2 linked regions of the Homo sapiens genome follow. The protein of the gene in region 2 purifies or fractionates together with the protein of the main gene of each other region. This does not show direct contact. Each region holds a gene or a part of one and is shown on either strand. Other genes may lie near its edges.

Region 1 (3,725 bases), on a different chromosome or scaffold from region 2:
TTGTGTACTGTTCATGCAGCAAGGACCTGGCGTAGGAGAGGAAGGGAGGTGAGGAACTCATAGGCAGGCAGCCGTCCTCTGGAAGCCCACAGAGCTGGGCGAGGCGTGTGGGAGCAGCTCTGGTAACTGGGGGCCTCCCTGTCCCTCAGACCACTTCCACATGCAGTCGGAGTCTCTGATCGGGCCCCTGATGCAGACCATCTCCCACCAGCACTGGAAGGTCCGTGTGGCCGCCATTGAAGCCACAGGCGCAGTGATCCATTTTGGCAACGGGAAGTCCGTGGACGACGTGCTTTCCCATTTTGCTCAGCGACTGTTTGATGACGTCCCGCAGGTAACTGGTGTTTCTCCTGGACAGTCTGTTCCTCTCTCCAACACAGGCGGGCTGACGTGCTGTTTTTAACTAACTCACTTGTTCTTTTTTCAGAGTGCTGTATGCACCAAATGTCCTTTCATTATTCCTAGTCACAGGACGTTCCTGTTCACATCTTGGAAAAACTAGAAGAGAGCTGAACTGTTTTAATGTTTGATGTTATGAATTCCAAGGATGTTAGAAAGGATGACTTGTGTAGTTATTGTCTCTTAGGCACAGTGTGCACTTCAGCAGTTGCAGAAGGTTCCTTAGTGCTCCCATCCATCAAGACGCACTTTCCCGAAAAGCCACCATGGTTGGTGGACCTGGACTGGGAGAAGAGTGGAGTCGGGGTTGGTTTGTTGGGGATAATTATGTCGTTGGGCTTTGGAACCCACCAAGAGACGGGCAGGCAGGCAGGCAGGAGTCCTACAGATGGGGCTGAGTGTTGGCTTTACTGCTGGCAGAATCTGGCCTGGAGGGCATGTCTTGGATCTGAGGCCCCAGTGACTTGCTAAAATGCTACACACTGTGGCCACCGGGGAAGCTGAGTGACCTCTGATCTTTCTGTCTCTGAGTTACCTGTCATCGTAGTCAGACATGTGATCTTTTGTGTCTGGCCTCTTCACTGTGCATGGTTCCAGGTTTCAGCCTTGAAGAGGTAGGTTTCCTGATGAGAAATGGCTTGAAGGTGGTGAGTTGAAGAGTCACTCGGGGTATTCTGGGGCCAGGATGGAAGCCCTGACTCGCTCCCTCGTCTGTGCTGCTGGGGTCCACCCGTAGGGCCGGCTCCAGGTGTGACATAGCACCTGCTCAGGACACCCCTGCTTTGCCTCCATGGCCAGGCTTCATTCTCCGGCTCTCTCCCTCCAGCAGCAGAGTGGCTGCCTAGGGGCTGTGCGCAGAGACACAGGGGGACCCTTTCCCACCAGGAGCCTTTGTTCACCCCCCTTGGTCTCATCAGGCCAGCGGAAGTTGAGTCACCATGTACGCTGGCCGGCCCCTCCTGGAGCTGGCGTGGGTTCGGCACCAGGCAGCACAGAGGGCCCCTGAGGACATCAGGCTCTGCCCAGTGGGGAGAAAGTGGGCAGAGTGCGGGGTCAGTGTCCATGCTGCCCGGCACTTGCAGCAGGCACTTCTGGCACTGGCTAAATATTTGGGCTGCGGAGGGCAGTTCAAGGGGCCAGGGCAAGAACAGAGCCCAGCAAGAAGTGCAGGCGGCCGGCTGGTTTTTCTCTCCCACCTTCCTTAAGCCTGAGGCAGAGCATGGCCCACAAGGAAAGTGGAGTCTGTGTCATGGGCCAAGTCTTACTCCTCAAAACAGTGTGATGACTCTGTATGGAGAGCTCTGTGTGAATACTGAAGCTCCATAGCTGATAGCTGTCGGTGTAAGCCTACTGTCACTGTCTAAAAATAACCATCACTGTCTAAAAATACCGTCACTGTCTAAAAATACCATCACTGTATCGATAGCTGTCTGTAAATACTGGAACTCTGTGGAGCACGCTCTGTAAATACTGGAACTCTATTGCTAGCTGTAAACGGTGTAACTCAGTATAACTATACCGTAACTCTAAAAATACCATAACTATGTGTCGACAGCTGCCTATAAATGCTATAACTGTATTGGTAGCTATGTATAAGCAGCCTACTCTGTATCAATAGCTGTCTGTTAGAAAGCTGACATCACATTGTTGATCTAAAGCAAGCTTGTCCAACCTGCGGCCCGTGGGCCACATGCAGCCCGGGACGGCTTTGAATGCTGCCCAACACCAATTCATAAACTTTCTTAAAATGTTACGAGATTGTTTTTGTGATTTTTTTTTTTCTTTTAGCTCGTCAGCTATCATTAGTGTTAGTGTTATTTTATGTGTGGCCCAAGACAATTCTTCCAGCATGGCCCGTTTCTTCCCAATGGGGTTTGCGTCCTATTAGAGACCCTGCACGGCCCTTCACGTGAGTTTCGTGTGGAGTCACGGTGCTGCCCCTTTTACTCTGATCAGCCCTGCGACCCCGTCCTGGAGCTCCATGTGGGCTCCTTGCAGACACCTCCACCCCCTCAACAACCCAGGGACTGGTGCCCTGGGACCCCATCCTCTCTGCACAGAAGGTCCTGACTGCCTTCTGACTCGTAGGAAACCTTCCAGCAGCCTGCTAGACTCGGCTTAAATCACTGAACTTCACTGGAAGGGCCTGGAAATAACTTCATCTCCTCCTTACAAGGCTCAGAGGCCTCAGAGCTCACTCAGGTAGCACAGCCAGGTGAGCCTCAGAGCAAGGTCAGGACACAGGCGGTCTAGCCGCCCTGGAGCCTTAGGCCCCGGGATGGTGTCTGAAGTTGTGGAAAGGGGGTGTCCCAGTGCGGCAGGGGCTAATGCATCTCCCCACGCTCACATGACTGCAGCTCCGAGCCCAGGACACTGACCACACCCAGAACCCCGGCGAGGCAGGCAGGACGGACGTATGGCCGTGCAGTTGTGAAGCAGGCCTTGAACAAACTGCCCTGTGCCGCCCTCAGGTGGGTGACTCATGGACTTCGCCCTGCAGGGGTGCCCTGGTTGTCGCCAGGCCTGCAGTCGGCAGCTGCTCAGCTTTGCTGCAGTTTTCCTGCTCGATGTGTGCTGCTGGTGAGGCCACCAGGCCTGTTCTTGTCAAGAGAGACCTTCCGGGAGCAACAGATGTTACAGGAGAGACTGGGGATGCATGGACAGCTTTTCAGAGATGAGTGTTTGTCACGTTCCTGCCAAGTACCTGTTTGCCATTTGTATGCCTTCTTTTGAGAAATGTCTATTCAGATCTGTCCATTTTTAAATCGCGTTATTAGATTTTTTTCTATTGAGTTTGAGCTCCTTATGGATTCTGGTTGTCAGTCCCTTGTCAGATGGGTATTTGTGCAGCTGTTTGCTCCCATCCTGTGGGTTGTCTCCTCACTATTGATTGTTTTATTTGCTGTGCAGAAGCTTTTTAACTTGATGTGATCCCATTTGCCCAGGCCATGTCCCAGAGAGTTTCCCCAATGTTTTCTTTTAGTGGTTTCATAGTTTGAGGTCTTAGATTGAGGTCTTTAATCTATTTTGATTTGATTTTTGTACATGGTGAGAGATAGGGGTCCAGTTTCATTTTTCTGCATATGGAGTTCCAGTTTTCCCAGCACCATTTATTGAAGAAACTGTCCTCTCCCCAAGATATGTCCTTGGCACCTTTGTCAAAATAAGTTCACTGTAAATGTATGGATTTAATTTCTGGCTTCTCTATTCTGTTCCATTGGTCTGTGTGTCTGTTTTTATGCCAGTGCCAAGCTGTTCTGGTCGCTGTAGCTCTGTAGTATAAATTGAAGTCAGGTAATGTGATCCCTCCAGTTTTTTGTTTGTTT
Region 2 (3,500 bases):
TCTGATGTCATGATCTAAATGAGGGGTAGTGGGGGATGGAAGAGAGTACCAGGTGGTCCACCGTTGGGGAGTGGGGCCGTCCGCCTGCTCTCTACTGTGCAGACCTCCTAACTGAGTTTACACACGCTTGTGTTTGCAACACTAGGTCTGGATGGGAGGTGAGGGGTGTGCGTATGGCTGCCATGCCAGTGTCTGTGCACATCCCTGTCTGTTGGTCTCCATGGCCACTGTGGACCGGGACCCTTGGGGGAAGCCTGCCCATGTCGGGCTGTGGGAGGCTGATCGGTGCATGTGAGAGTGGCTTCCCTTCTGCCTGACTCCCCACTCCCTGACCTGCCCCTTCCTTGTTTTTCCTCCTACTGGTCTCCACCAAGGCTTTGTTAGCCCCCACCCTGCCTGGTGTGCAGCTAACCCCTCCCTCCCCACAGCCAGAGGAGGCCACAGACCCCTCAGGGGAGTTCCGCGCTGGGGTCTGGGCTGTGCTCCCTCACTAAAGGGAAGGAAAGGAAGCTGGGCGTCCTCTGGGCCCCCCAACACACGTCCCATTTAGCCCTGCACAGCGGTCTCCTTCCCCTAAGCCAGCACTGCTGCTCCCTGGAGCCCGGGAAGGAGGCTGCCTGGCTGGAGGCCCGAGCCGATGGCGCCTGTGCTGAGGATTTGTGCTGTGATTTGGGCAAATCATTCCAGGTCTTTGGGCCTCCACCCCCTTGTCTCTAGTGGACATTTGAGATCAGAGAGCACCACAGGGCTGGCTTTGTGCCCTAACCCCTGGGATGCAGCCTGCCTTTCCATAAAGTCACCTAGGTGAGGATAGGCGCGGGAGCCTCGGCATGACACCATGGAGATCGGGGCCCTCTTCCCAGTGGGTTCACTCCTTTTCACACCTGCTGGGTCCCTCCTCACCCAGCAGGCCTGGTCCACCTCTCATTGCAAGCCCCAAGCACTGAGCCAGCAGGTGCCAGGGAGCCACCCGCCCCCCATCGCTTCTGCACACCTCAGACTCACCCCATCACCTTGGCAGCAAAGCACTGGCTCTGCCGTCTGACCCCTGATCCAGGCAGCCCCCTCTGCAGAGAAAAGGGTTGGGGAGAAGCCTCTGCAGTCCTGGAAGATGTGGGGTGCTGGGTGAGAGGCATCAGCCCCCACAAGTATGTTTTTGTGTCTTAAGATAGCAGTTTACTTTGAAAAAGTGAAAAAGGCTTCCGGGCTGTCCTCTGCCCAGTGAGATGGAGGACGCTAGAGAAAGTGCTGAGTGTCCCGAGAGAGGCCCCCGAGCCAGTGCATGGAGGTCCTTCGGCCTGGCTCAGCTGGGCTGCAGGATGCCCACTTTGAGGAGGGAGGCACAGGGCTTGGGCGAGGGGCAGAGGCCATCAGAACTGCCCGGCTTTTTTGGAAACTGAGGACCCAACAACTAACCACGTTTACACGACTTGAGTTTTGAACCCCGATTAATGTCTGTACGTCACCTTTCCTAGTTCTGACCCTGAGCCCTGGGGAACAGGAAAGCGTGGCTGGCCTCTTGCACTGCTTTGTCTCCAAAATAAACTACTGAAATCAAACCGCATTTCACACGTGTTTACACATGTTGCTCAAGTTTGTTATGTCATACTCCCAGTCCTTAAAAGACGTTTAATAAAACAGCTTTACCTTTTAAAAATAAAATTTCAATCCCAGTCTGCCTCAGGTACGGGTGGGGGTGTGCAGCGTGACTCCTGGCTGTGTTCCTGTACCGTTTGTGGCCTCCGGGGTCTTGCGCGTCCAGGGCCCAGATACCGAGTAACTGCCATGTGGTGTCGTGGTGGCGTCCATAGGCCTCCGTGGTGGGGCGGGGGCGGGGCTGTGGGTGTGCAGGGCAGCTGCATTTTCCAAGAGTGGAGATGGAGGATGGAGATTTGCTTCGTAAAGGCCTGGGAGCTACATGGGAGGTAGGGAGGGGCCAGCCACACCCAGGGCTGGGGGGCCGGTGGACTCTGCCCAGTGAAGCCAGGGGAGTGTCAGCAATGAGGGGCCTGGACAGCGACGCGGGACCCGCACCTGGGAGCGGCAGAGATGGAGCCCAGCTCGCTAAACGTACCCTAAGGGTGCACGCTGACCATCTTTGATCCCTGGACAGTGTCCATAGAGTTGTCTCCCCTTCGGTCACATTGTCCCTGGCCTTGGAGTTTCTGCCTCAGGGAAAGACCCACTAAAACCACCCGGGCTCTGGCGGCCTCCTCTTCTCCAGAGCATGGTGGCGCTGCCTCCTGAGCAGAGTCACTGAGAGTGTCTGGGTCCAAGGAAGGGACCCACTTAGCAAAGGTTGTTGTGTGGTGCTGTGCAGGCACGGCGCCTGGAGTTGGCCCCGCCAGCATCGGGGTGGCTTGGGGCTCTGGTTCCTAAGCTTCTGCTTCTGAGTTGGTCAGCACGTTGGCTCTGCGCCCTGCAGTGCCTGTCTTGATGGTGGTCCCTGGATGTGCTGAAGGGCTCCAGGAGCAAGGGGCCAGACCACACTTTGGCTGAGTCCTTGGGTAGTTTCAGAGGGTCACCTGCACAGTCTGCATTGAGCACCCTGGGGCTGAGGCCGTGGGTCAAGTTCTGCCTGACAGTGCTTTGATTATATGGTGATGTGATTCTGCAAACATAACCCCCCAACTGAGTGCCAGCTGCTGGGTGTCCCCACCCCAAGAGCCAAGGGGAGGCCACCCTGGAACTGGTGCTTTGCCCTTGGTGTCATGGAGGTGTCTGGGTCCACACGTGGTGGGTGGGCTGGGCCTGCAGTCACCCAGCATGGCCGGCGGGATTGGACCCAGCTGCAACCTGGCAGGTTCCATGGGGCTTCCTGTGCCTGGGCCTGCCTGTGTCTCATGCCTGTCAATAAAGGAGAAAGCAACCTGGGAAAAACATTCCTCTCTGTACCCAGGGGACTGCCAAGTGTGCTTTATAGAAGGCTGGAAGACCGACTGAAGTAGGAAGCTGTCACATGTTTGAGCCAACTGAGCAAAGCAGCTGTTGCCTGCCAGACAGCCACCCCAAGACCAAGGGAGCCAGCCTGTCGTTTGTCCTTCTAGCCTGGAAGACCAGTTCTTGGCTCTTGGGCACTCACATTGGCCACTGGCCACAACTGCTGAATGGCTTCACTAATGTCCCTGGGGTCTGTATCTGCCCTCTCTTCTATTCCCTAGAAACTCTGGCCGGGCATGGCGGCTCACGCCTGTCATCCCAGCACTTAGGGAGGCTGAGGCAGGTGGATCACAAGGTCAAGAGATCGACACCATCCTGGCCAACATGGTGAAACCCCATCTCTACTAAAAATACAAAAATTAGCTGGACATGGTGGTGGGCGCCTGTAGTCCCAGCTACTTGGGAGGCTGAGGCAGGAGAATTGCTTGAACTCGGGAGGCGTAGGTTGCAGTGAGCCAAGATCGCACCACTGCACTCCAGCCTGGCAACAGAGCAAGACTCCTCAAAAAACAAACAAACAAACAAACAAACTCTGATCATTCACCCGGTGGGATCCCCGG

The links. Proteins that work in one complex are often made in the same cells at the same time.
Region 1: the proteins of ITPK1 (region 2) and DNAAF5 fractionate together in Homo sapiens (co-fractionation; one large-scale study listed by BioGRID). This does not show direct contact.

Annotation. Positions count from the first base shown.
Region 1 is NC_000007.14:729,514-733,238, forward strand, and holds part of DNAAF5 (dynein axonemal assembly factor 5), read left to right. Parts: intron 1-149; coding exon 150-334; intron 335-3,725. UniProt on the Homo sapiens protein: Cytoplasmic protein involved in the delivery of the dynein machinery to the motile cilium.
Region 2 is NC_000014.9:92,937,926-92,941,425, reverse strand, and holds part of ITPK1 (inositol-tetrakisphosphate 1-kinase), read left to right. Parts: 3' UTR 1-2,899; coding exon of another isoform or gene 2,900-2,943; 3' UTR 2,944-3,500. UniProt on the Homo sapiens protein: Kinase that can phosphorylate various inositol polyphosphate such as Ins(3,4,5,6)P4 or Ins(1,3,4)P3. Phosphorylates Ins(3,4,5,6)P4 at position 1 to form Ins(1,3,4,5,6)P5.